Homo sapiens: one gene and its partners. The protein of the gene in region 5 purifies or fractionates together with the protein of the main gene of each other region. This does not show direct contact. Each region holds a gene or a part of one and is shown on either strand. Other genes may lie near its edges.

What was found.
Region 1: the proteins of LYPD6B (region 5) and ERGIC1 purify together in Homo sapiens (affinity purification with mass spectrometry; one large-scale study listed by BioGRID and IntAct). This does not show direct contact.
Region 2: the proteins of LYPD6B (region 5) and PSME4 purify together in Homo sapiens (affinity purification with mass spectrometry; one large-scale study listed by BioGRID and IntAct). This does not show direct contact.
Region 3: the proteins of LYPD6B (region 5) and UGGT2 purify together in Homo sapiens (affinity purification with mass spectrometry; one large-scale study listed by BioGRID and IntAct). This does not show direct contact.
Region 4: the proteins of LYPD6B (region 5) and SPCS2 purify together in Homo sapiens (affinity purification with mass spectrometry; one large-scale study listed by BioGRID and IntAct). This does not show direct contact.
Region 6: the proteins of LYPD6B (region 5) and TIMP2 purify together in Homo sapiens (affinity purification with mass spectrometry; one large-scale study listed by BioGRID and IntAct). This does not show direct contact.
Region 7: the proteins of LYPD6B (region 5) and DCAF6 purify together in Homo sapiens (affinity purification with mass spectrometry; one large-scale study listed by BioGRID and IntAct). This does not show direct contact.

What each region holds. Positions count from the first base shown.
Region 1 is NC_000005.10:172,840,413-172,844,497, reverse strand, and holds part of ERGIC1 (endoplasmic reticulum-Golgi intermediate compartment protein 1), read right to left. Parts: exon of another isoform or gene 3,628-4,085; intron 1-3,627. UniProt on the Homo sapiens protein: Possible role in transport between endoplasmic reticulum and Golgi.
Region 2 is NC_000002.12:53,960,901-53,964,985, forward strand, and holds part of PSME4 (proteasome activator complex subunit 4), read right to left. Parts: intron 1-4,085. UniProt on the Homo sapiens protein: Associated component of the proteasome that specifically recognizes acetylated histones and promotes ATP- and ubiquitin-independent degradation of core histones during spermatogenesis and DNA damage response.
Region 3 is NC_000013.11:95,948,487-95,952,571, forward strand, and holds part of UGGT2 (UDP-glucose:glycoprotein glucosyltransferase 2 precursor), read right to left. Parts: intron 969-4,085; coding exon 849-968; intron 1-848. UniProt on the Homo sapiens protein: Recognizes glycoproteins with minor folding defects. Reglucosylates single N-glycans near the misfolded part of the protein, thus providing quality control for protein folding in the endoplasmic reticulum.
Region 4 is NC_000011.10:74,959,065-74,963,149, reverse strand, and holds part of SPCS2 (signal peptidase complex subunit 2), read right to left. Parts: intron 1-4,085. UniProt on the Homo sapiens protein: Component of the signal peptidase complex (SPC) which catalyzes the cleavage of N-terminal signal sequences from nascent proteins as they are translocated into the lumen of the endoplasmic reticulum.
Region 5 is NC_000002.12:149,209,574-149,213,190, reverse strand, and holds part of LYPD6B (ly6/PLAUR domain-containing protein 6B), read right to left. Parts: intron 200-3,617; coding exon 69-199; intron 1-68. UniProt on the Homo sapiens protein: Likely acts as a modulator of nicotinic acetylcholine receptors (nAChRs) activity. In vitro acts on nAChRs in a subtype- and stoichiometry-dependent manner.
Region 6 is NC_000017.11:78,865,904-78,869,988, reverse strand, and holds part of TIMP2 (metalloproteinase inhibitor 2 precursor), read left to right. Parts: intron 1-1,758; exon of another isoform or gene 1,759-2,015; intron 2,016-4,085. UniProt on the Homo sapiens protein: Complexes with metalloproteinases (such as collagenases) and irreversibly inactivates them by binding to their catalytic zinc cofactor. Known to act on MMP-1, MMP-2, MMP-3, MMP-7, MMP-8, MMP-9, MMP-10, MMP-13, MMP-14, MMP-15, MMP-16 and MMP-19.
Region 7 is NC_000001.11:168,006,063-168,010,147, reverse strand, and holds part of DCAF6 (DDB1- and CUL4-associated factor 6), read right to left. Parts: intron 1-4,085. UniProt on the Homo sapiens protein: Ligand-dependent coactivator of nuclear receptors. Enhance transcriptional activity of the nuclear receptors NR3C1 and AR. May function as a substrate receptor for CUL4-DDB1 E3 ubiquitin-protein ligase complex.

The DNA of each region.
Region 1 (4,085 bases), on a different chromosome or scaffold from region 5:
ACAGAGGCGGCACCCTGCCTGTCATAGGCTATCGTCAGCCCTCAGAAGGATTTGTTTGGTGTTTAACAGAAATAAAATTGAGATCAGTGGCCAACCATTTTCACGCAATTTATCAGATTTTCATTGTCTCTTGAAAAATCAGGGCATCTGTAGGCAGTAAGCAACAGAGCTGCATGTCAGCTGTCCCTTCCCCACAGGGCCTCGCGCTCCAGGTGGCCATGGCCCACATCTTGCCCAATCACCGACTGAGGTACTTGCTGATAGGTAGGGGCGCCTGAGTGTGTGACCCTCTGGCCACTTTCTCCCTTACCACAGACTGGTGTTTGACGTCTATGGCTGTGTGGGTACCACAAAGGGAGAGGGGTCTAACTCTGGGTCTGACCATCTCAGGTGTTCCCATGTGATTGTATCTGTGCCCTGCAAACCCCGGAGGCCCTGGTTTTACCACGTCCACCTACCAGAAGACCCACTACTGCCATCTATCACGGCTCGGTGAGGTGCACAGGACTATGCCGCCAGGAAAGGCAGAGGAGAGGGAAATGTCCTCCCGCCTCCAAGTATACTTGTCTCACATTCCACATGAGCTCATCTCACCCTCACAAAATCCCCGCAAAGAAAGTATGAGCACCCCAATTTGCAGATGAGGAAAACTGAGGCTTGCAGAGGCAAAGTGTCTTGTCCTGGGCCCCACAGCTGGTAAACACTGAGGAAGGGATTTCAATCCAGAGAGTTCTGCCGAATGAGTGCAATGTGAGGGTCAGTTCCAAGGGCACTTCACAGCGTTCCGCAGGGGACCTGTGGTCAGTCCCCAGAGGGGTTTGCAAGGGCGAAGACCATTCAGAAAGGGTGGCCAGGGTTGGACCGCTACATACCACTTTCCCCTGAAGACTTGGAGACTCTTTCTGCACACCATGAACATACTCTTGGACCCAGCAAGACATCAAAACACGCCAAATATCACCAGGGTTTCCCAAAGTTCTTAAAGGATACTTTAGGTAATTCTATATGTTGGTGTGAAAGTGGGAGGGGAGAGAAGATCTAGTGAAGAATAATAAAAATCAGCAAGAAAAATCAGCAAAGCAGGATAGCACCATGTGAGGTGCCAGGCTCTGGGACCCCAGCTCTGCACCTCACCAGCTGTGTCCTGGGCCACTCCCATTCCAGCTCTGTGCCTTGGCTTACCATTTTAAAACTGAATAAAGAAAACATTAACGGAGTGAAAACGCAACTACAGAATGGAAGAAAACATTTGCAAACCATACACCTGATAAGGGGCTAATATCCAGAATATATAAGCAACTCCTTAAACTCAGTGGCAAAAATAAACTTCTATTTTATTTTATTTAATTTTTGAGACGGAGTTTCACTCTGTCACCCAGGCTGGAGTGCAGTGGCACAATCTCGGCTCACTGCAACCTCCGCCTCCCGGAGGTTCAAGCAATTCTCCTGCCTCAGCCTCCCAACTAGCTGGGACTACAGGCGCATACCACCATGCCCAGCTAATTTTTGTATTTTTAGTAGAGATGGGGTTTCTCCATGTTGGCCAGGTTGGTCTCGAACTCCTGACCTCAGGTGATCCACCCACCTTGGCCTCCCAAAGTGCTGGGATTACAGGTGTGAGTCACCATGCCTGGCCAAAAACCCTCCAATTTTAAAAAGCACAAAAAATGTGAATGGATATTTCTCCAAACAAGACATACAAATGGCCAAGATCTTGAAAAGATGCTCAAAATCTCTATTCATCAGGGAAATGCAAATAAAAATCACAATGAAATGGCACCTCATACCTGTTAGGATGGCTATTACCAGAAAAACAAAAGACATGTTGGCAAGATGTGGGGAGAGGGAATGCTTGTACACCGTTGGTGGGGAGGAAAGATAGTGCAGCCACTATGGAAAACAGGAGGAAGATTTCTCAACAAATTAAAAATAGAGCTACCATAGGATCCAGCGGTCCCACTTTGGGGTATTTATCCAAAAGAATTGAAATCAGGATCTCAGAGACATCTGCACTCCCATGCTCACTGCAGCATTATTCATAACTGCCAAGATGTGGAAACAACCTAAATGTCTATTAATGGGTAAATATTGGTATATATACACCTTGAAATATTACTCAGCCTTAAAAAAGGAAATTCTGTCATTTGTGACACCATTGATGAAACTGGTGGACATTACGTTATGTGAAATAAGGCAGACACAGAATGAAGACTGCATGATTCCACTTACATGAAGTATCTAAAATAGGCAAATATGGTGAAACCCCATCTCCACTAAAAATACAAAATTAGCTGGGCTTGATGGTGCATGCCTGTAATCCCAGCTACTTGGGAGGCTGAGGCAGAATTGCTTGAACCTGGGAAGTGGAGGTTGCAGTGAGCCGAGATTGCGCCATTGCACTCCAGCCTGAGCAACAAGAAGGAATCTCCGTCTCAAAAAAGAGGGTGCTCTGATGTTAGGTATTCTTACCACACAAAAAATAACCAAATTAATAGTATGACTATAAAGTGACAGCATGAGATGTGAGGGGTGATAGAGATGGAGCTGTCCTGTATCTGGATGGTGGTGATTACATGATAAACAAGCCTTAACTTTCATAGAAGAGTGCACAAACACACATTAATTTTATCATATGCTAACTTTAAAAATAAAACAAAGAAAATAAATCATGAATCATTGTATCTGTCTGTAAGGCCAGTGTGATTTTATAAGTCCAATGACATGCCTAGCCCAGTGCTCAAGACATTACAAGCTGAAGGGCCGTGAGGTATTGCTAATAAGATGAGCATTACTTCTCCTCCTCCAAAGATATTCAAGACCCAGACCAGAATCTGAGAAAGGAAAGCTAATGCATGGAGGGGCTATCACAACGCCAGTCCCCAGTACATCAGGGACATCCGGGTCCTCTGACTTTACTAACTGTAATTACAGCCAGGCCTCTCATCTCGAATAGGGTTTCCACCTTTTGGAGAAACAGAATGGTTTGTCCATTTCAAGCGGATCTGCCTTCCTGTGTAGCTGTGCTGCCTGGCAGGTGCCAGGAGGAAGGCTAATTGTCAAGGGCATGAGGATTACGCTGTCAGAGGCACCAGCTGTTTCCCAGCATTTCTGAGGGTCGGTTTCCCTGGACATAAAACAGGAAGGATCATGCCCACTCAGAGGGAGAAGAGGTATCTGTAAAGGACCCCACATGTCCCCTGGCTCTTGGCTGTATGGAGAACCCTGAGTTCACCCTGCCTCTCCCGTGGGTCAAGATTTTTTTTAAACAAAGACAGCCAGCGTTGGAGGTTTTTTTCCTGTCCTGTACTTTTCCCACATATACAATCAATGTAATTAAGTTAATAGACCTAAAAGTTAAAGCTGACAACAGACAATTAGGCTAATTGCCACTTCCTTAAAGGATCAATTAGGGCTGTGTTTCCCAAACTGTGTTTTGAGAAATGGCACTAGCTGCTCCATAAACAACAGGGCATCTGAGACTATACATGTGGCAAATGTTGGGCTGAACCAAATAACTCTGGTTCGCTCAGTGCCGGACTCTTCAGAGTCCTCAGTGAGGCAGCCAGTGCGGCATGGAGGGACACAGACTGGAGGACACTGAGTCAAATCAATCATACAGACCAGGGCTTTATACATTTTAATGAATACATGAATCACCTGGGGATCTTGTTAAAATACAAATTCAGATTCCAGGTGGGCACTGAGATTCTCCACTTCCAACAAGCTCCAAGGTGCTGCTGAAGCTGGCATCTGGGACTGCACTTTGAAGAGCAAGGTTATTAGTAGAAAGTTACGGCCCCTTACTGTCCACTTCACTGGTGGGGTAACAGAGTTGCCGAAGGTCATGCAGGAGTGATGGGTGGGACGGGAACTCCACGCCCCAGCCTCCCGAGGCAAGGCTCTCCACCGCCACCCGACCTGGCTCCCCTGCTGCTCTCAGCCCTGCTTGCTATTGCTTCTCCCAATTCAGAGCACTTCTCCTCCGTCTTGGCTGTGCATTAGAATCACATGAGAGACTTTAATATACAGCCAGGGTTGAGGCTCACTGATTTAGATGTACCGGGTAAGCCTCACCCCAAATACCC
Region 2 (4,085 bases), about 95 Mb from region 5:
AGTTCGAGACCAGCCTGACCAACATGGAGAAACCCAGTCTCTACTAAAAGTACAAAACTAGCTGGGCATGGTGGCGCATGCCTGTAATCCTAGCTACCCAGGAGGCTGAGGCAGGAGAATCGCTTGAACCTGGGAGGCAGAGGTTGCAGTGAGGCAAGATGGTACAATTGCACTCCAGCCTGGGTGACAGAGCAAGACTCAGTCTCAAAGAAAGAGAGAGAAGAAATGTTAAGTGTAAACCAAATACAGAAGTAGTCAACCTCAAGGTTCCAAATGGGAATATTTATAGTATGTGCTGCTTTTAACATTCCAATAGAGGTCTCAATGAATGTAGAGGTTTTCTGTTGCTGTTGTTGTTTGCTTACCGTTTTTACTACCATGCTCTCAGTTTGGTGTTCATATAGAATGAGATTTTGATCTAATTTTCTACAAAGGTTAGACAGAAACATAGATTAGGATTTTTGTATTTGAAAAGGAGGGAAGAGGCGCTAGGTGCAGTGGCTTATGCCTGTAATCCCAGCACTTTGGGAGGGCGAGGCAGGAAGATTTGAGCCCAGGAGTTTGCGACCAGCCGTGGCAACATAGTGAGACCCTGTCTCTACAAAAATAAAAATAAAATAATAAAAACCTAGCTGGGTGTGCTGATACATGCCCGTGGTCCCAGCTACTCCAGAGGCTGAGATGGGAAGATCGCTTGAGCCTGGGAGGTTGAGTTTGCAGTGAGCTGTGACAGCGCCACTGCACTCCAACCTGGGCGACAGAGCAAGACTGTCTAAAAATAAGGGGGGGAAGGGGGATGTTTGAAATGCTCATTCCCCATTGCTGTAAAGAAACAGCACTTCAACATAAATTTAATTTCCTCAGCAAGGCCATTTTTATACTTTCTGCAGAAAAGGTACACTCGCCAGCAGTTTTGCCAGGAGAGTACACCCAACAAAGGAGACAGGGTCATTTATAACCCGAAGCGTCCACCCTACTGTTGTGTCCGGTTTCCACTTGCTAGAACGGGACCTCACATTCTGTATTTGTCCCGATTGGCTAGCAACTTAGAACTTTTTAAAAGAGGCAAAGGCAGAGAACAAAGGAAGGAGGAAGTAACTTGTGGAATGCTGAGAAAGATAAAAACACCTTCAAATAAGGAAGAGGAACAGGCTATGACCTAATGCTTGCTTGGACCAGTATAAGCATGCCAGGGCAAATATTTAGGCTAAATTGTGGGAGCTAAGAACATAAAGTACATTGATTTCTTCATTATGGCTAGCAGATATTTAAGAATGTTTGCAAGGGTCTTTGAATAAATTTTGCTTGTAAGAGAAGTTACTATTTATTCCTAATTAGATGGGGAGGAAAGTCTTTGAAGAGGAACCTCTACTTTTTACAGGGGCGAAAGGGATTCTCTAAAAATAAGTCTCATTTAGCAGAAAAAAGTTAATTCCCAGGTTCCATAAGAAAAACAGTTCTTAGAAGTTATATAGTTATATGCTTATTTACAAGCTTGCCAAAAAAAAAAAAACAGTAAAAATTTGCCTCCACTTCAATTAACAACAGGTATTTCAAATACAATTTTATTTTACAACACTGCAGAAAGAACACTTGGGAAAACCATTCTTAAGTGACATTCAGATCTCAGAACATCAAACGGTACATTTCTTTTTTCTAACTGCCTTTCTTAGTGCCTCAAAGTAAGGCATTAAAACACAGTGGTCAGAATGAGATTTTCTTTTCAAATAATACATTCAGAATTCCTATTTTCTTCAATGTTTTTGATGAAGTTACCACCTGGCCTAGTCTGTCCTAAATGAACAAAAATGTGCACTGAATAAAGCACACAGCTGGGCACGGTGGCTCACGCCTGTAATCCCAGCACTTTGGGAGGCTGAGGCAGGCGGATCATGAGGTCTGGAGATCGAGACCATCCTGGCCAATAAGGTGAAACCCCATCTCTATTAAAAACAGAAAAATTCGCCAGGCATGGTGGCTGCACCTGTAGTCCCAGCTACGCAGGAGGCTGAAACAGGAAAATCACTTGAACCCAGGAAGTGGAGGCTGCAGTGAGCCGAGATCGCGCCACTGCACTCCAGCCTGGGTAACAGAGCGAGACTCAGTGTCAAAAAAAAAAAAAAAAGGACACATACCATATGCAGTGGCTCACGCATGTAATCCCAACACTTTCCCAACACTTTCAGGAGGCAAAGGTGGAGGATCACTTGAGCCCAAGAGTTCAAGGCCAGCCTGAGCAACATAGTGAGACTTTGTCTCAAGAAAAACTTTAAAAATTAGCTTGGCGTGGTGGTATATGTCTGTAGTCCAAGCTAACCAGGAGCCTGAGATGGGAGGATCGCTCGAGGCCAGGAGCTCAAGGTTAAAACAGGGGGGTATGATTGCACTCCCTATGATTCCAGCCTGGGTAAGAGACCAAGACCATCTCTTCAAAAAAAAACACACAAAAAAGAAAGAGCGCACTGAAACTTCCAGAGGGCAGAAAACTTGCGCTGATACATCCCAAACGCCAAAACCAGTGCCCAGCCCACGCATTGCACTCAAAAAATTGTGTTCAAAGAAGATTGATGTCTGCCTCTACTACACTGTATTAACCCATGACTGTACACTAACCTATGAGCCTCTTGTGTCTTCATTTTTTAAATGAAGGTAACTTAAGAGAATACTTGTTACCCCAGGATTGAGTCTAAGTCTTCAAAGGTAAAAGGCAGAAATGAAAGATGTCATAATGTGAAAATGTTCATTAATGAGCTATTTTCTTGATCTCTGTCCATGAGATTTGATTACAGTAAACCTTAGGCAAAAAAATGCAAATGAAATGGAAACTCAGAAGTAAAATCACAAATTTGGCAAAGAAGCAGAACCTTATGAGATTGATCAAAGTGATAATAGATGTTAATTTTTTTAGGTTTTATAATAGTATTGGTATTGCTTTTTTTAAAAAATTCCTTTTCCTTTGAAGATATATACTGGAAACATTCATGAATAAATAATATACTTCAAAAACAATGGGGAAAGGGGATGATGAAAAGAACATAACTGGCCATGAGTTAATTAAGTGAAGATAGGTGATGAGGTTCATTATATTGTCTTTTGAATATTTGATATTTTTCATAATAAAAAATATGTAATGAAAAGAGTTTAAATATTAGAAAACTTCAAATCAGAAACACACATATGCTCATTGGCCAGTGATGTTCAGGAAGAAATAGCCAATTAACTAGTGAAAAGAAAACGACAAGCTGTTTTCAAGAAATTACTGAGAGATCTCTGGAAAACAGTAAGGGCCTCAAATATTTTTGAAAAAAAAGTATATGTGTGACATCATCATGAAAAATCAAATGTATGCATGTGTAGAGACAGAGGGTATACAGGAACTCTATACTTTCCATTCAATTTTGCTGTGAACCTAAAATTGCTCTCAGAAATAAAATTTTTGAAAAAATCAAATATGAAATATGTCTTATTGTGCTATTACATTATACAACTTTATCAAAGAAATTCATGTTCTCCAAAATCAGTTCCTTTTTTTTCCCCTTATGGAAAATCAACTTTCTCACTACAAAGAAATTTTGGTTCCCATTTTGAATGATCACTTAACAACAAAGTAAAACCTCTTCTATCACTCTCTCTAACTGGTTCTCACTGATGAGTTTGGTAACTTGTCAAGATTTCAAGATTCATTTACAAATAAAACCACTTGCATTTATTGTGTACTTCAATTTCAATACTCAAACATTAGATACTCTTAGGTGCCTCATACCAGACAATGCAGATTCAGCAGTTAGCATTTCCTTTCTTTCCCAACACGGGGATGATATGAATGTGGGTGCTCCTGTGGCCACTTATTACTTTCCACAAGAGAAGGTTTGTGTATTTGATAACTCATACCTTGACTACACCTAAGTTTCTGGTGGTTACATAATCTAATCAAATACATTATGTGGTTTCAACTGGGATAATCAATCCACGAAGGCTGCATAATATTTGTAATAATAAAACAACTGTACTTTCAATTCTAAAGGGTGCCACAGTTTTAATTAGCAATTAAAATGACTTCACATTATAATATAGTCACTTAATCA
Region 3 (4,085 bases), on a different chromosome or scaffold from region 5:
CTTTATCAAGACTGCTGCAAAAAATATCTTATTCATTTCCTATGTGAAAAAACAGCCGTAGGTATTTTCTCCAACTTTCAAAGTTCCAATATTAATGTTTAGATATTATTGGGCTAATAAAATTATATGCATAGATGATAAAGTGGTATTTATGTATCTTTCCCTAAAATTACTACACTTTAATCATTAGTTCTTTTTAATAAAGAAGAAAAAGTTCTGTCATAAATTCTTTTGAAAAAATGTAAAAGTAACATTAATATGGTTATTATAAAATGACATAAGGGCTAAAGAGTAAGAGGCAGAACATGTGACTAATATGGTTTGGCTGTGTGCCCACTCAAATCTCATCTTCAATTGTAGTTCTCATAATCCCCATGTGCCGTAGGAGGGACCCAGTAGGAGGTAATTAAATCATGGAGGCAGTTGCCTCTATGCTATTCTTGTGATAGTGACTTCTCAGGACATCTGATGGTTTTATAAGGGGCTTTCCCCTTTTGCTCATACTTCTCCTTCCTGCCACTATGTGAAGAAGCACGTTTGCTTCCCCTTCTGCCATGACTGTAAGTTTCCTGAGGCCTCCCCAGCCATGCTGGGGAGTCAATTATACCTCTTTCCTTTATAAATTACCCAGTCTCAGGTATGTCTTTATTAGCAGCATGAGAACGGACTAATACAGTGACATGGCTAGTTGTTGATACCCAGTCAGCCATGCCACCTAAGCTTGCTGCTTCAGGCAAATACTTAACTTCCTTACAACTCAGATGCCTATTCATTGACAGAAGGATAATCCAGAAAGAATGCTGATATCTTTATAAGATATATATGTATAATCAAAATATAAAACTCACCAAATTATGAAAATTGCGCCTTATGGAAGGTACACTTCCAGGAAATACTGGCTTCAGAAGTTTCTGGCAACTTGTAGGCCATGTAATATACAAATCATCATTTTCTAAGTCATTAATCCACTAGAAAAGAACGCAGACACTTGTGAAAGCTATATTAACACTGAAATCATTTTCAAAGCCAGATTTTTACTATATCGTGATAAATAAAAATATACATAGAATTTTCTATATTTCTGATTAAATAGAGGAGCTAGTTTAATATTCTCTAAATTAAGGAATACATTATGTGCAACAATTTTATACTTGTGTAGCCTTTTACATTAAGCCTTCTCTCAAAAACAATTCCTTTCACTTGTGTTTGTTTTTCATATCCCAACGTAAAATTGTATGAAAATTACTCTCCATAAACCACTTAAGAGAGATGAATATTTATTTTAATTATCAGCAGTAAATGAAGCCCTCTCCACCTCCCCTCTCAATTTAAAGGCTTGGATATAAGGAAAATAAAATGGCTTATAAAAATTAAATTATAAAATCAACATCTTAGAAATCAAGTTCTAATCCACTATACAAGCTGGAGAAAACATATAAACTGCTGTTTAGAGGCATGTGGTCGGGGAAGCAACCACCAATCAAGAAGTGAGGCATTATGGTCCTTGAAAGCAGGAGGCATAAGCAGCAAGCTCCACATTCACCTAAACTTCATCCCTGGGTCCCCAGATTGCGTCCTGGAGAAATACTGAGTTGGAAAGCAGAAGTCAAAGTACGGGCTGCCAAAGTGCTGAGATTTGAGGGCAGGATGCAGGGTGAGAGGGTAGGAGAGAAGGAAACTGCAGGAAACCAGAAAAATCTCCATACAAATTCCTCTCAAGTCATTTGCTGACTCCTATCCTGCACATATACATGGTAACACCTCTACAAAAGCCAGAAGGAAAGAGAAACGGAGAGGTTGAAACCACAGCTATAAAATAGTACTGAGAAGACAGAGACCAAAGTCCAAGTACTATATAGTACTATATACACTGTAGACTTTCATTTGAGACCCAGTAAGGCCAGATCCTAGAAGTAAGACACAAAAATAGTAGAGCCTTCACAAAGCCTAAAAACAAGCTTCAACAGAAGCAAGTGAGCATCTGGCACTGAGGATACCAGAACAAACCTTAGCTCTTTGCTTCTACAGCTTTTCATCAATTTCTGGCTCTCACAAAAAAAAAAAAAAGTCATGCAAAGAGAAAAGGACCAAATATTGAAATGAAACAGGAAAAAAAAAAAAGACAATAAAAAACCCCAAAGATTACTTAGACAAGGACTTTAAAATAACTATCAATATATTTTTTAAAAAGTACAAAAATTTCTAAAAAGAAAAATTTTGACAGAACTAAAATCTGTTTAAAAAGAATCAAAGAGATATTTAAGGTTTTTAAAATATAATATTTATAATTAAGAACTCTAAGAACTTATTGGGTGGGTTTAATTGCAGACTGTACGCAGAAGAGACAGGGATTAGTAAACGTGACAACAGATCAACTGTTATAGTAACTAAACTACAAAGAAAAGAATAAACAAACCAAACAAAGTGTGAGAGAGATTAGGAATATATGAAAAAGATCTAGCATATAGGTAACTAAAAATCCAAGAGGAAAGGAGAGAAAGTCTGGAGCAAATAATACTTGAAGAAATTAGGTTTCTACAGTAATTCAGATAATCCAGGTATGAGTTTATTGTGGACTGAACTAAGTCAGAGGCAGTGGCTTCAGAGAAAAGGTGACAGAATTAAGAGACACACACAGATGGATGAATAAAACAGAGGAATTTAGGGTATATGTTCCAATAGCTAAAAGAAACGATGTCTAAATAAAGGAAGGCATGAAGACAAATCAATAAACAGATAAAAATTACAAAAAGAACCAAATAAAAATTTTGGAATTCAAAAGTATAATAATTGAAATAAAAAATTAATGAGAGGAGCTCAACAGCATATTTGAGCAGTTAGAAGAAAGAATTAATGAATTTGAAGGTAAGTCAATGAGCTTACTCAGTCTGAGGAAGAAAAGAGAAAGGAAGATATAGGTGCAGAGGAGTCTAGCCCCAAAGGGGAAACAGGCCTTATCTTGACCCAAAGGCAGCTGAGGGTGAGAATTTGGCAGCTCTTTGGAAAGGGCAATCAGAACTCCCATTCCCAATGGAGCTCAGAATCATACAGAGCCTTCAAGCAGTGCCACTTTTCCTGACTAAAAGCAAGTGTGCCTAGACAGACAAAATGAGACTCTCAACTACAGTGCAACTAAACTTGTGGTCTGAAGACTGTTAATAACCTATAAGTACAGAAATTAAGTGTTCAACAACTTGCAGTAATTTGACATGGCCATGACATTTGAGCATGTATCAGTCTCATTTCACTGAACATGGTATAAGCCAGCTTGGGGTTCATCAAACTCCTGTGGTGTGCCACATGTAGTACAAAATACATATTACAGCACTTTGGGAGCCTGAGGTGGGTGGATCATGAGGTCAGGAGTTCGAGACCAGCTTGGCCAACATAGTGAAACCCCATCTCTACTAAAAATACAAAAATTAGCCAGGCATGGTGATACACGCCTGTAGTGCCAACTACTCAGGAGGCTGAGGCAGGAGAATCGCTTGAACCCAGGAGGCAGAGGTTGTGGTAAGCTGAGATTGCACCACTGCACTCCAGCCTGGGCAATAGAGCGAGACTGTCTCAAAAAAAAAAAGATACATATTAGTCATAGGAGTAGGACAACATATTGATTGGCAACAGGTTAAGGAAAAAATGTTATTCTCTTACTATGGATAGTTTAAGAAGTAGTGCTCTAGCACTTGATGAGGGCTATCTCTGAAAAACCACAGGAAAAAAAAAAGAAGAAAAAAAGAAATTAACAAAAAAAGATACGACGGCCCCAGGCTTTGCTAGGGTCCAAGATGAAAGCATTATCTGTGGTCATTCTGATACTGATAAGATTTTGGCAAAAGATATACCCACCCCCTAGTATCTGTAGGGGGATAGGTTCCAGGACTCCCCGAGGATACCAAAATCTAAGAATATGCAAGTCTCTAACATAAAATGGCATAGTATTTGCATAGAACCTACTCACATCCTTCCATATACCTTAAATCATCTCTAGATTACACGTAATGCCTAATACAATGTAAATGCTATGTAAATAGTTGTTATATTGTTTTAAAATTTGTATTTTTTTATTGTTTTTCTTTTTTTGA
Region 4 (4,085 bases), on a different chromosome or scaffold from region 5:
TCAAGTAAATCCCTCTTTGAAGACATGCAAAAGAACCAACTTGTAGAGCCAAATCCACCATAGCATTTGAATTATTTGTGAAATAAAGTCAGAATAAAGTCATTTAAAAATTATGGGTCATTCAAAAACAGGAAAATCATATTCTCAGACACCTAGCCACACTTCACTGCCTGCATTGCATCACAGAAAAGAAACTTGCCTTTAAAAGTCAGAGGATAATGTCTTAACCAATTTGGGAGAATAAAATGCAGAAGCAGCCATTACAATGTATTGAAATAGCCTCAGCTCTAACTTCACTGCCTGGTACCTAGAAGCAATCTTCAGTAAGTGGAAAAGAAACATTTCCAGTGAATTACATGAAATCACAAGAAAGGTTATAATTTGACTTTACGGCAACACAGCCCATTTCGAAGCAAGTAATGTCTCTACTACAGTATGGAGAACCATCTGGAAGAAGGGGAGTTGCTATTAGGTGCTTCTTTTTCTGATTATTACTTCTCATCATGCTCAAAAACTGCTCATCAACTAAAATGTATGCTGCTCCTCATGTTCTCTCTACTACTAATTCGGGTATTTTAAAAGCTATCTTTTTTTTTTTTTTGCCTCAATTTTGTCTTCCTCAACACTAATTGCAAATTGCTTTCCTTTTGTAATAATAAAAAGAGAAAGCAAAAATTAGTTTCTTTTATGTGGGACCTCACAGGATAAATTAAAAAGAAGGGCAGTGTGCAGAAATAAGTGAACCTGGGTCCAAGACTGCCATCTTTAGCAAGGCTTGTTTGCAAGGTTGGCCCTTGGCTGGTATCTGACAAGCTGGCTGATAAAACAAATCCCTACACTGATATAAATACATTCCCTCAGTGATAAGAATGGCTCACTGTGCCTCAACTGTTTGTATAAATGATGTGATTTATGTTGAACACCTTTCCTTCTGGAAATCTAGAAAAAGTTCTTTATGTTGCCAGTATCTAAAATTTCAAGATGATATCCCTTACACAGGTCAATTTTCACCCACTGTAAAACTGCTATTGCCACTCATCTTTTTATTGCAGCACTAAGCAGACCCTCAATCCAGAAACCAATGTCCTTCAGATTAGAAAACTAGAGTTCAAAGATGTTAAGTGCCATACAAATAGTAAATGACAGGCCAACAAAATTCTTTAGGGCTAAATTACAAATACATGGCTCATTATAAAACTGTCTCTTCTTCAGTGATATAAACTTATTTTTATTTGCCTTAATCCCTGAACTCAATCCCAAAGCAGATTGTGGCCTTATTCTTAAAGGTGTACTGTACTTCAAATCACAAGCTGATTGGTTCTGGTCAGGTGCAGTGGCTCACACCTATAATCCCAGCACTTTGGGAGGCTGAGGCAGATGGATCATTTGAGGTTAGGAGTCCGAGACCAGCCTGGCCAACATTGTGAAACCCCATCTCTACTAAAAGTACAAAACTTAGCCAGGCTAAGTAATCCCAGCTACTTGGGAGGCTGAGGCAAGAGATCACTTGAATCCAGGAGGCAGAGGTTGCAGTGAGCCGAGATGGTGCCATTGCACTCTAGCCTGGGTGAACAGAGGAAGACTCCATCTCAAAAAACAAACAAACAAACAAACAAACAACAACAACAACAAAAAACAAGCTGACTGGATTTAGACTAAATACAAATGTATGTAGGCAAATGCTTTTTTTCCTTACCCAATAAGGTGAATCCTTATTATCCAAGGGAGAATGGAGTCAGGCTACTTTATTTTAATCCTCACTTTTCCACTTAATACTGGAAGGCACTGGGCAAATAATTTAACCTCTCTAAAGCCTTATTAGTTTGCTAAATTGTAAAATTAAGATGGTGAAAGTATCTATTTCACAGGTTGGTATGAGAAGTAAATAGTGTAATTATAAAACATAGCACAGTGCACAGTGCCTGGTACCTAGCAAGTACTTCATAAAAATTAGCTATTGCTGTTGCTATTAATGATATAAAACTATATAATACACTGCATCATGGTTACCTGACTGTATGTATTGTCTCCCTCACTGGGTCACAGGGACTATACACTTTTGTATTCTCAGAGCCTGGAACACAATATACTCTCAATAGCTTTTTTTTTTTTTTAATGTCTAAATCCTTATAAAGAAAAAAAGGGAAGAAAAAGATCTCTAAAATGTTACTCTCCAGTTTAAATTTAGCAAATGTAAACATGGTCAAAATGATCTCACTTGGTTCTTATTCACAGAATTTCTTTAAGGGATGGAGGGCAGACAGAAGGTATAATCATAGCTACCATTTCCTGAATGCCTAACATGTGCTACGGATGTGCTAAGTATTTTATATACACTATCTCACTTAATTTCCACAATAACTCTACAAGGTAAGAACAGTTAAAATCCTCCTTTTACAGATAACACTAAGGGTTTAAAAAACCTGCCAAAGGTGAAAGGCAGAAAGTGGTAAAGCCAGGACTCAAAACCCATGCTCTCTCATTATTCTACACTGCTTTCCCATGAAGTGCAAGGAAAGGAATTATTAGCCATCAAAAACACAAAGAACAGGAAACAAAGAGATCCCTGAAGTGACAGCTATACATTGTATCTTGATTCCTAACAAGCTCTAGTAATAACATTTTAAAAACCTAAAAAAAAAAAAAAGATGTTAATCTTGAATAGGACCACAAAACTCACAGGGTATCAAAAATGTTGAACCTCCCCCCCCAATGTAAAACCAACTGCAATTTGGCTGAAAACAGAGCTCAAAAAGTACTATCTTAAAGAAATTACTCCCCTACACCACCCACTGAAGAGATAAAGACAACTTTTTTTTGAGACAGAGTCTTACTCTGTCACCCAGGCTGAGCGCAGTGGCGCGATCTCAGCTCACTGTAACCTCCGCCTCCTGGGTTCAAGCAATTCTCATGCCTCAGCCTCCCGAGTAGCTGGGATTACAGACAAGTGTCATCACAGTCAGCTAATTTTTGTATTTTTTAATAGAGATGGGGTTTCACCATGTTGGCCAGGCTAGTCTCGAACTCCTGGCCTCAAGTGATCCACGTACCTCAGCCTCCCAAAGTGCCACCACACCCGGCCAAGATAAAGACAACTTTTGTCAGACTAACACACCTGATGCCAGAGCTGGCTGGCTAACCAGTTCAAAGAAAACAGGCATTTGATAGCTTTAATAGAACATTATGAAGAATCATTTCAGTTACGTTTCTCCACTGCACATTTGAATAATAAAAAATTCTACAAAGACACTTCACTGAAGGTATGGCATCAGGAACTCCATAAGTGCTTAGGAAGGATATTAAACACAACTCAGGTCTGAAGGATATGTAGTCAGTACAGGAAGGCATTTTCCAAATTAACTCATTTGAGGGAATACAGCCTTCTGTTCCCATGCATCTCACCACACTCAAAGGGATAGGGTGGGATCAAAAAAAGAGACAAAATAAGCCAGGCACAGTGGCAACATGTTTATAACTTCAGCACTTTGGGAGGCCAAGGTGGAAGGATCGCTTGAGTTCAGGAGTCTGAGATCAGCCTGGGCAACATAGCAAGACTCCTCCGTATCTACAAAAAAATGTAATTTAAAAAATTAGCCAGGTGTGGTGGTGCCCACCTAAAGTCCCAGCTACTTGGGAGACAGAGGCAGGAAGATGGCTTGAGCTCAGGAGGTATAGGCTGCAGTGAGCCGTGATTGTGCCACTGCACTCCAGCCTGGACAATAGAGTGAGAATCCATCTCAAAAAACAAAAGGACAAAATCCTTGGTCATTAGGATATGTCCAGCAAAACAAAATTGTTTTGAGTATGACACATGAACACCTTCAATTATCTTATTTTAATCACAGTGAAAACAGAAGTTATGCAGTGATATAAAAGACCTGAGTGGATTGCTTCATAAAGTTCCCTGGCTTGATAATAAGACTCAAAGGATTCCTCAATTCACACTGGAGAGATGAAGAATTACCAAGGGTGAGAGTGGTGTCAATGGTGACCCTGTTCTGATTTAGACAGAACTGAGCATGGCTTTAAGAAAAATAAACTTTTTCTCTCCTTTATCCCAGTTTAGAAAGTAGACAGAAGCTGCA
Region 5 (3,617 bases):
TCCTTTGATCTACGACTTACATTACTAGGATGAAAGTTTAGACAATAACACACACACACGATCCTTACCGTATGTTCAGAATCTCGGCTGTGGTGGCAACCGACAAAATGACATTCACTTCTGGAGGCACACTTTTTGGTGATGGATGTGCTTCTTCCGTGGCTGGTGAAGTGATGAACTGTCAAACAGTACTGTGTATCTAGGCAAGAGGAAACAAAAAACAAAACCAAGAAACAAGGTAATTTCAATATCCATATTACAAAAGAGATCTCTTAACAATTAATGCAGAAAGGACTCAAATTCAGGCCAGTCCTGGGGTTTTTAGGCAAGACATTTCATAGCAGTGAACTCTGAAGTTTCTAGGTGATATTTTTCAAAGGACACCAGCTTCTGAAGAACATATGTGTTTTGAAAATGAACGTAAATGGGCGCTCATCCTGTGGTTTCAGTTAGAGCTGAGGAAAAACTGCAAGCATTTTATCAAAACATGGGTCTGCTCATTTGATATGAAAATATTTATGTCTCTGGCCCTCTCTCTCCCTCTGAAGCACGTTCTCGAAATCTAAAATAAAATGAAAATTGTGATGGTAAAACGCAATGGGTCAGAACAGTTGTTTCATTATACAGTTGTTTCATTACTCATCATTTTTCTCTTGTATACTAATAGGCCATGTGGTGAGCTGGGGTGAAAAGCAGGTGCTTCGAATTATACATCACAATCACCTTTTTCACTCATTTATTAAATTGTAAAACCCGCAATTCATTTTGCACCAACCTAATAATTTCTTTTTTTTTTTTTTTTTTTTTTTTGAGACGGAGTCTTACTCTGTCCCCAGGCTGGAGTGCAGTGGCGTGATCTCGGCTCACTGCAAGCCCTGCCTCCCGGGTTCACACCATTCTCCTTCCTCAACCTCCTGAGTAGCTGGGACTACAGGCACCCGCCACCACGCCTGGCTAATTTTTTTTTTTTGATTTTTAGTAGAGACGGGGTTTGACCATGTTAGCCAGGATGACCTCGATCTCCTGACCTCATGATCCGCCCGCCTCGGCCTCCCAAAGTGCTGGGATTACAGGCGTGAGCCACCGCGCCCGGCTGCACCAACCTAATAATTTCTATTCTGGTTCTAATCCTACCAACATGTTAGACTTTTCTCATCCATGTATTTCCATTTTTTTTCCTCCTCTTTTACTTTCTCTGTTTCCCACCCACCACCTCCTGCTTATCTACAGTACCTCATTTCTACCCAGCTATCTACAGTACCTCATTTCTACCCAGAATTATCCTTAAGGTTTTAACCACTCACATTTTATTACTTAGGGTTCTTTGAAGAAGTTTCATTCAATATCCTAGGACATTATTCTTTGGTTCTGTGTCTCTTTTATACCAGAGGCCAATGAAATGCTTCTTAGTTTACTGATCAGAGACTACAACAGCAATGTCATAGAATGGGAAAAAAATTGGACTAAAGCTGAGAAGACTGGGCTTATGGAACTGCCTTTGTCATAGGTGAGCAAGTCATGGTAGATCTTCTGAGCTCATTTTTTTTTTTTTGGTTTTAGTAAAATGATAGATAATAAGTGTCTTGATGCTTTGATAGGGTTGTGATAAGCTTTACATAATACAAACAGTAGCAAACCCATACTGAGTGTGCACTATCAGCCAGGTACTCCTATAACTTGTGTTCAAGCATTCAATCTTCACCATAAGCCTTAAGGTAAGTCATATTAAGGTAAGCCTCATTTTACTGGTAAACTGAGGACAATTTCTTGCCCATGGTCACAGAGAAAGAAAATGGTGAAAAGTAGGATTCTAACCCAGTAGTTTTCCTAGGGCTTGCACTCTTAACCAGAACATTATTCTACTCCTCAGTATACTTAATATTAAACCACGTGGCAATTGATATGGTTTGAGTCTGTGTCTCACCCAAATCTCATATCAAACTGTGAGCCCCCATGTTGGAGAGGGGAGGTGATTAAATCATGGGGGTGGATCCTTCATGAATGGTTTAGTGCCATCCCCTTAGTGCTGTTCTTGTGATAGTGAGTTCTCATGAGATCTGCTTGTCTAAAACTGTGTAGCACCTCCCCCCTCTCTTTCTTGCTCCTGCAACCACCATGTGAGATGCCTCATTCCCTCTTTGCCTTCTGCCATGATTGTAAGTTTCCTGAGCCCTCCCCAGAAGCCAAGAAGACGCCAGCATCATGCTTCCTGAACAGCCTATGGAACCGTAAGCCAATTAAATCTCTTTTCTTTATAAATGACCCAGTCTCAGGTGTTTCTTTATAGCAATGCAAGAACGGACTAATACAGTGATATAATGTAGAGTGTCCTACAAGAGTAGCTGACTTCCAGATTCAAAAGGAAAGGGAGCCGCTAAAAGTTCTGGAGAAAACATTTCAATTTCCACTCTAAACAAAGAAGAATCGAAAACTGGTGGCTGCATGTGTTCATACAGAACGGGACACATGCTAAGGCAGCCCTAAAAAGTCAGCATAAAAGCCGGGGTAAATAAAACAAGAAATGTCATTCTTGTCATATCCTGTTACACAGAAGACTTCTTTTAACAACACCAACAGACCACAGAAGTGAAGCTGTAAAGTAAAAAGGAAATCTGAGATGACAAAGAACAATAGCCGTAGGCCTATTTGCCCCGAGAAATGGTTGACTATCACTCCCTGAAATGACAAAGTGAAAAGTAAGAAGTTACACCCTCAATTAGAATTCCAGGTGGTTAGTATCTTTGGGACCTGCCTGGCCTATAGTAAGAATGTCCTATCATGCCATGCTGGAATGCAGGGCCATTCCGTATTGAGCCCATTAAGAGTCAGCCTCTCAGGTGGACTTGGCAGAGCAGACTCTCTTCCACCCTTCCCATCTCTGATGTTTTCTTGGTGGTGGAAAGCTGCAGCTTCTCCTTTGGTTCAGCCATGTTTCAACAGAGAAGAAATCCTAAAGCCCAGAAACAGCCATGCATCTTCTTTGCCTGCATGCTAAGATGGCTTTGGTCAACTAATGACAAGTTGGAGCATTATGTACAGACCTAGAAGGAGCAGTGTTTTGGTACAATTCAAAACAATAGCATGAGCCATGAAGATAAGGCCTACCAGGTTGGACATCAGTGCCGCAGTTTACTACTGTTCTAACCCTTGCTGCCCAGCTTTCAAGGCAACTTAAAGCAAATTGTTAAAGGATGATACTCTCTGAAATAAATTAGTAAAGAGAAGCATCAACAAACCTTGAAAACTTTGAAATAACAAAGATAAATTTCTGTTGAAAATGTAGAAATAAATCCCCAAATACATACAATCATGCATGCACATACACTCATAAGCGCACACACAACTTAAGGATGATCCCTTGACAGAAATGTAAAAGAACCTCAAGAAAAACATATTTTGTTAATTAATTATTCTTGAAAATAAATAACAAAAAACACTGTCCACATGGATGCCACGGCCATTTGTGCTAATTTATGGCATACGATTCTCAGGCATAGTAGAGGTCTCCAATGTATTTATTGGATTAGTATTTATTGGCTCCACACATTGGCTGTAACTGGAAGAGGTAAAGCTATGCCACTGCTATAAATAATGTGGTACTGGAATTTCCAAAAGAT
Region 6 (4,085 bases), on a different chromosome or scaffold from region 5:
CCACCTCCATTTTACTTTCTGTCTCTGTGGATTTGACTACTCCAGGGGCCTCACATGGGTGGAACCCTGCAGTGTTTGTCCTCTCTGTCTGGCTTATTTCAGTAGCATCATGTTTTCAAGGTTCGTTCACGTTACAGCATACATCAGAATTTCCTTACTCTTTTTTTTGTTTTTGAGACAGAGTCTCGCTCTATTTCCCAGGCTGGGGTGCAATGGCACTATCTCGGCTCACTGCAACCTCCGCTTCCCAGGTTCAAGCGATTCTCCTGCCTCAGCCTCTCAAGTAGCTGGGATTATAGGCACACGCCACCACACCTGGCTAATTTTTTTTTGTATTTTTAGTACAGACAGGGTTTCACCACGTTGACCAGGCTGGTCTCCAACTTCTGACCTCAGGTGATCCGCCCACCTCAGCCTCCCAAAGTGTTGGGATTACAGGCGTGAGCCACCACACCCGGCCCAAAATGTCCTTACTTTTTAAGGATGAATAATATTTCATTGTATGAATGTAGCACATTTTGTTTATTGTTGCATCTCTTTGTTTATAGTTTTTTGGTTTGTTTTTTTTTTTTTTGAGACAAAGTCTTGCTCTGTTTCCCAGGCTGGAGTGCGATCATGACTCACTGCAACCTCGATCTCCTGGGGTCAAGTGATCCTCTCGCCTCAGCCTCCCAAAGTGCTGAGATCAACTACAGGTGTGTGCCACCACACCCAGCTAATTTTTTTATTTTTTGGTAAAGAAGTCTCACCATGTTGCCCAGGCTGGTCTTGAACTCCGAGGCTCAAGCAATCCTCCTGCCTCAGCCTCCCAAAGTACTGGGATTATAGGCGTGAGCCACTGTGCCCAGCCTATATTTTTATTCCTAAGTAAAATTATTTTCCCTTACTTCCTTCTACGGCCTCCTCTGCTTGCCCAGCTAGGCTGAACCACAGGAGGCCAGGACAGGATTCTCAATCTCAGCACTATTAACATTTGGGGATGGACCATTCTTTGTTGTGGGGGCCTACCTTATGCATTATAGGATATTCAGCTGCATCCCTGGCCCCCACCCTCTACATGCCACAGCACCCGCTCCAGTCGCGGGGTCTCTGGACATTGCCACATGTGCCCAGGGGAGGTGGGGTAGATTGCCCCTGCTTGAGAACCACTGGGCTCAAAGAGCTTTCTGCAGTGATGGAAGCGGTCTCTGCACCATCCAGTCCAGCAGCCCCCAGCCTTGTGGCTCATGAGCACCCGAGATATGGCTAGTGCAGCCGAGGAGCTGCATTTTAAATTTTATTTCATTTCAAGTAATTTTAGTATAAATGTAAACAGCCACATGTGGCCGGCAGCCGCAGTCTAGCATGGCACTGACTCAGCCAGTTAAGGAACATTATTCCCCTCCTCCCTGGGGAAGTAGGAATCTGATCACAAACTTAAGAAAAAAAGAATAGACAAGGCCTGGTGCAGTGGCTCATGGCTGTAATCCCAGCAATGTAGGAGGCTGAGGCGGGCGGATTGCTTGAGGTCAGGAGTTCAAGACCAGCCTTGCCAACATGGTAAAACCCTGTCTGTACTAAAAATACAAAAATTAGCTGGGCGTGGTGGCAAGTGCCTGTAGTCCCAGCTACTCAGGAGGCTGAGGCATGAGAATCATTTGAACCCAGGAGGCAGAGATTGCAGCAAGCTGAGATCACGCCACTGTACTCCAGCCTGGGTGACTGAGCAAGACCCCATCTCACAAAAAAAAAAGAGAAAAGAAAGAAGAGACAAGACAATTCCCCTAGCCTGGTACTATAGTTTGTTCCAAAAGGCAACTGTAATCATAAACATATACTCCAAATCCAAATATCCATGATTGGGGGATTTTCTTCTGGTTTAGGTGACATGTACTTTTTTCCCTTCTAAAAATCAATGTGTGCTTAGTGAGCACCTGTTAGGTGCCCAGCCCCGTGTTAGAGACAATGGGAGATTCCCACGGTGAGATCCTTGGCTCTGGTCATCATGGAGCACACAGATGTTCCGAATGGGGAGACTGGAAAAGAAAGAAAATAGATTTTGCTTGTGGAGAATTGTGAATAGTAAGTGAATGCTTAGAAGGTGCAAAAGGGGCCGGGCGAGGTGGCTCACGCCTGTAATCCTAGCACTTTGGGAGGCCGAGACGGGCAGATCATGAGGTCAGGAGATTGAGACCATCCTGGCTAACACAGTGAAACCCCGTTTCCACTGAAAATACAAAAAAAAAATTAGCCGGGCGTGGTGGCGGGCGCCTGTAGTCCCAGCTACTCAAGAGGCTGAGGCAGGAGAATGGCGTGAACCCGGGAGGCGGAACTTGTAGTGAGCCGAGATCGTGCCACTGCACTCCAGTCTGGGCGACAGAGTGAGACTCCATCTCAAAAAAAAAAAAAAAAAAAGAAGGTACAAAAGGAAGAGAGACTCTCACAGGTCCAAGGGTCTAGACAGACTTGCTGCTGGAAGAAGGTGGTGTCCTTGCCTATGGATGGGGAGGAGGTCATTGCAGGGAGGAAGATGCAGGGCTGTGAGTTGGGCAGGGAAGACTCCTGTTATCTCCCCTTGGGTAAGATCTTCCCTCCCTTCCTTAACATGCTCACAGCTCCTGCTTTGCTGGGTATCTCGGTCATCAAGACTTCTATCCCTCTCCTTGGGGATAATAGGAGACTTCCCCCCCTTTTAAGATGCATTTCTGGACTTCCTAAAATGTTTTATTATGAGCACTTTTCTTATTCTCATTCCAAGACAGAGTCTCCCTCTGTTGCCCAGGCTGGAATGCAGTGGTGTGATCTTGGCTCACAGCAACCTCTGCCTCCTGGGCAATTCTCGTGCCTCAGCCACCCAAGTAGCTGGGATTACAGATGTGTGCCCCCATACCTGGCTAATTTTTGTATTTTTAGTAGATACGGGGTTTCACCATGTTGGCCAGGCTGGTCTTGAACTCCTGACTTCAGGTGATCTGCCCGCCTAGGCCTTCCAAAGTGCTGGGATTACAGGCGTGAGCCACCGCGCCCGGCCTACAATTCAGTGGTTTTAGTATGTCACAGAGTTCTGCAACCATCACTACAGTCAAAAAGAAATCCTGTATTCTTGAGCTATTACCCTCCTGACTCCCCTCCCCCTCCCCCAGCCCTAAGCAGCCACTGGTATACTTCCCGTCTCTATAGATTTCTCTATGCTGGGCTTTCCTGGGAACGGAATCATACGTGTGACCCTGTGTAACCGGCTTCTTTCGTGTTTCCAAGGGTCATCCATGTTACAGTGTGTATCAGAATTTCATTCCTTTCTATGACTGAGTATTCCACTGTATGGATAGACCACGTTTTGTTTATCCGGTCATCATTTGATGTGCATTTGGGTTGTTGCCACCGTTTGGCCATTGTGACAAATACTGCAATGAACATTGGTGTGTGAGATTTTGCAGGGACCTGTTCTCATTTTTCCTGGGTGTATCCCTGGCAGTGGAATTGGTGGGGTCGGGGGTGGGGAGGGGTTGGGTGACTTTAGGTTTAACCATTTGAGGAGCTGGCAGACCGTTTTCCAAAGCAGCTGCACCATTTTACACGCCCAGTATTATCTATGATTTTTACAATAAGAAAAAAAAAATCAAATGGAGAAGGGTAGAGGGACAAAAACCACCTGTGGTGCAAAGATCTTACCAGCTAACTAATGCCCTCAAAAAAAACACAGAGGAGGCAGGAGAGCTGGGGTGGCCGCACAGCACGCACGGTGGCGCGTGGCAGAGGCATGGTCTGCAGTGTGGCATTCGGGGGCTGCTGCAGCTGTGCACAGAACAGAGCACGGGAGGAAATTTCCCAGCGTGTCAGCATCTGCTGTGTCTCCTTTTCAGTTCTTTCCTGTATTAAACCTTTAAAATTATGGCATTTATTACGTTTGTCATCAGAAAAATAAAATCTGGAGAGACAAGAAAGGAGACAGAATCCCCCGTGGTGCAGGGAACTTACTTCCAGTTTTCTGCATCCTGTTTGTTCCTATCCACAGGGAACAGCCTTTAAAGTAAGTCCCAGCCGTCCCAGCTCAGTTTCGTCACACTGCCCTCTAGGGGCTTTCTGGCCAAACTGCAGCGCTGCGG
Region 7 (4,085 bases), on a different chromosome or scaffold from region 5:
ATCCAAAATGATAAATGGTTAGACAGCTAATCACAGCATCTCTCTTCTAGGTGTTACCAAATTTTGGAAACTTAATGGAAACAGCCAGAGTAAATGACTGGGGCTAAAAGTATAATCTAAAGACTAAAATAAAGCTAAATATACCCTATCTAGTCTATATCAGCTTAAAGATAACAAAATGTCTCATCACACTTTTAATCGTATCTTTAGAGGGTGAATATTGTTGGGGAAAAAAGATGCTTACTCAGAGACAACAAGATAGACAATATCCTGTCTTCAAGAGAGCTTATCATAGTAAAAGAAAATTATAAATTTTTATAATTGCTTTTCACAAAATAAACAGGGTTATATAGAAGAGAATAAAATTTCAGCAAGAAGAAAAAGGAAAGAGGACTTTACCTAGGGTAGTTATGAAAGACTTGTCTTATATGGCATTTGAGCTGAGACTCAAGGAAAAGGAAGTTGGCCAAGTGATAAGCCAGGACAAGGGCTTCCCAAGCATACAGAGAATAACACTAAGAACAAAGTGTAAGAAGGAAAGAGGGAAAGAAAAGAAAAGACAGGAAAGAGAGAAAGATGGGAAAGGAGAAAAAGGAGAAAGAGGAGAAGGAAAGAAGGGATGGAGGAAAGAAGGAAGGAAGGAAGGGAGGGAAGAAGTGAAGGAAGGGAGGGAGGGAGGAAGGAAGAGAGAGAGACAGAAAGAAAGAAAGAGAGAGAGACAGAAAGAAACAAAAGAGAGAGAGAGAAAGAAAGAAAGAAAGGAAGGAAGGAAGGAAGGAAGGAAGGAAGGAAGGAAGGAAGGGAGGAAGGAAGGAAAGAAGAAGAGAAGAGAAGAGAAAGAAAAGAAAATGGCAGGGCACAGTGGCTCACGCCTGTAATCCCAGCACTTTGGGAGGCCGAGGAGGGCGGATCACAAGGTCAGGAGATTGAGACCATCGTGGCCAACACGGTGAAACCCTGTCTCTACTAAAAGTATAAAAAATTAGCCGGGCATGGTGGCAGGCGCCTGTAGTCCCAGCTACTTGGGAGGCTGAGGCAGGAGAATGGCGTGAACCCAGGAGGCAGAGCTTGCAGTGAGCCGAGATCACGCCACTGCACTCCAGCCTGGGCAACAGTGCAAGACTCTGTCTAAAAAGAAGAAAAAGAAAGAAAGGAAGGAAGGAGAAAAGAAAAGAAGGAAGAAAAGAAAGAAAAGAGAGAGAGAAAGAGAGAGAGAGAAAGCAAGCAAGTGGGAGGAAGGGAGGGAGGGAGGGGGGAGGGGAGGGGGTGGGGGCAGGGTGGAGGCGGGGTGGGGCGGGGGAGGGCAGGGCAGGGCAGGGCAGAATTTGGCACGGAAATTCTCTGATAACCGAAAGAAATCAGTAGTACATCTAGAGTGTAACAATCATCAAGTACTGAGAAAATTGAATGAGATGAGGCTAGAGAGACAGGGAAGGGCAGGCCATATAAATTCTTATACGTCCACAGTGAGGAGTTTGATTTTTTTTTCTTTTGTAGTTGTATTTCCAAATGCAATTAGGAACTTCTGAAGGGATTTAAACAGCAAAGTTATATAATCTGATTTAACATGTTAAAATACTCATTCTGGCTCCTGCATGGAGAATACATTATAATGGAACAACAGTAGGTACAGGCAGATTAATTAGGAGACAAGAAATGATGGTGAGATGAAAAGACCCAGGTTATAGTTTAGATACAGGAACAAAAGAACTTGCTGATGAGCTGGCATGGGACTTGAGGAAAAGGAAGGAATCAAGAAAAACTCACAGGTTATTCAAATAAGCAAATGGACCAAGAAGGAGCCAATTACGGAACAGGAAGGGTAGGAGGCTGCATTAAGTTTTAGTTTGAACATGTAGATTTATGACGTACAACAATAGGCCGGGTGCAGTGGCTCATGCCTGTAATCCCAGCATTTTGGGAGGCCGAGGCGGATGGACTGCTTGAGGTTAGGAGTTCAAGACCAGCCTGACCAACATGGGGAACCCCATCTCTACTAAAAATACAAAAATTTGCTGGGTGTGGTGGCAGGAACCTGTAATCCCAGCTACTTGGGAGGCTGAGGCAGGAGAATTGCTTGAACCCAGGAGGGGGAGGCTGCAGTGACCTGAGATTGTGCACTGCACTCCAGCCTGGGTGACAGAGTGAGACTGTCTTTAAAAAAAAAAAAAAAAAAAAAAAAAAAGATGTACAACAATAACAAAAACATACTGTCAAAATAGCAGTCAGACATCAGGCATAAGGGTCTGGAATTCAGGGTAGAAGATCAGATTGCTGATATATATATTTGTGAGTCATGAATTTACAGGAGATATTAAAAGCTATGAGGAACTGACACAATCACCCAGAGAAAGAGTGTATGTAAAGAGAAGAGAAGAGAGCCCAAACTAAGGGGTTTGATTATAATATTCAGAAGGAGATAGAACAAGAAACACGAACAACAGTTACTGAAAACCCACCAGAATTAATAAGAGTAAATAGGCAAATATGATATCATAGATACCAAGAAAGGAAAGTGTTTCAAGAAGGAGTGACAGCCTATGTTAAATGCAACCGGGTCGAAAAATCTAGTAAGGTACTAACAGAGAAATATCCTTTAAACTGGTGAATGTCACTAGTGACTTTGATTAAAAGTTTCAGAGGAAAAGGGGGTTGAAAAGCAGATGGGGGTTGGTTAATAAATAAATGAAGGATGGCAAGAAAATGGAGAGAGCATCTATCAACAACTCTTCTGAGGATTCTCATTACGAAAGCAGCAGAGAAATAAGGCAATAGCTGAAGGGGAATGTGAGATAATTAAGAGAAAATTTTTAAAGAAAGGAGATAATAAGAGCATGTTAAGGCCAAAAGAAACAATTTGGCAAAAAAAGGCAATGATAATGCAAGAGAAGGGGCGAAATCTTTGAGAAGCTGGAAAGGGATAGCAACTACATTGACTAGCTTTTGATAGGAGCTTTCTGCTTCTATCACAATGTGAGTACAGATGTTGGAAAGCTGGGAAATTATTGACAGTAGGAAAACGAGTACTTTTCATTGTGAATGAAAGGTTAGAATCTGGAAGTGGGGCGGGGATGAAGGGAAGTATTAAAGTTTGAGAGACATGAAAGTGTAAAATAGTCATTTTGTACAGCTGGAGAGCAACAGTGTGAGGCTGCTCTGATGCACAGTGTTGAGCACCCATTGAAATTTGTGGTCATAACTTTCTTCATTATCATTCAGTGATTCCACTGTAGACTAAGAGAAGGCAGACAATTAGGTTCAACCAGAGATGGAGCGTAGCAAATTTTCATATTCCCATTGTCCGTTTCTTTGATATCAGTAAAAATGAGGGAGGACATGTAAAGGGATAAACATTTACATAAAAAGGTATCCACAGCAAGGCAAGCATAGACAGAAGTATACTTTATCATTTTCTCTATCTCTATGCAGGGAAATAATAGAAATCATGGTCCTAAGCTGACATTTCCATCTACTACATTCACCCAATGGACAATTCCCAATATTCACAAACACATTTGGACTTAGGCTATGGCAAATGCAAAAGAGATTGGACAAAAAACAAAAACAGAAACAAATTAAGTCCTTACTCCTGAAACGTTGAACTCCAGAATAATGAAAAAGCTGTTATCAGAACAACTACAGTCATAACCTTCAGATGTTACATCTAACACCAAATCATTTTTCTCAATAGTGATAATGTCTTGATAACATGGAAATATTCTAATTATCTATAGCTTAGTCAACCAAAATTCTCTCAATAATCTCCCAGTTAAAAATATTTCCTTACTTCCTATAAATAATTTATGAGTAAAAGTACTGCATAATGTTTCAATAATCATCACATGACCACCAAAGATATTTTTTCTTCTTCAATAATTCAAATGATTGTCACATTTAATACTTACATTAAATATTGAAAGGAATTTAGCAATTTGAAATGCAGTAATTAAAATGCATTAGATAGCTTTAAAAAATAAAGTTCCAAATACTTTACTCATAAATATATTTAAGAAACAACTAGAATTAGTTGAGATTCAGTGGAAGCTGAATGTAAGCTAGAGTCTTCTTGCTAAGTTTTCCTAAAA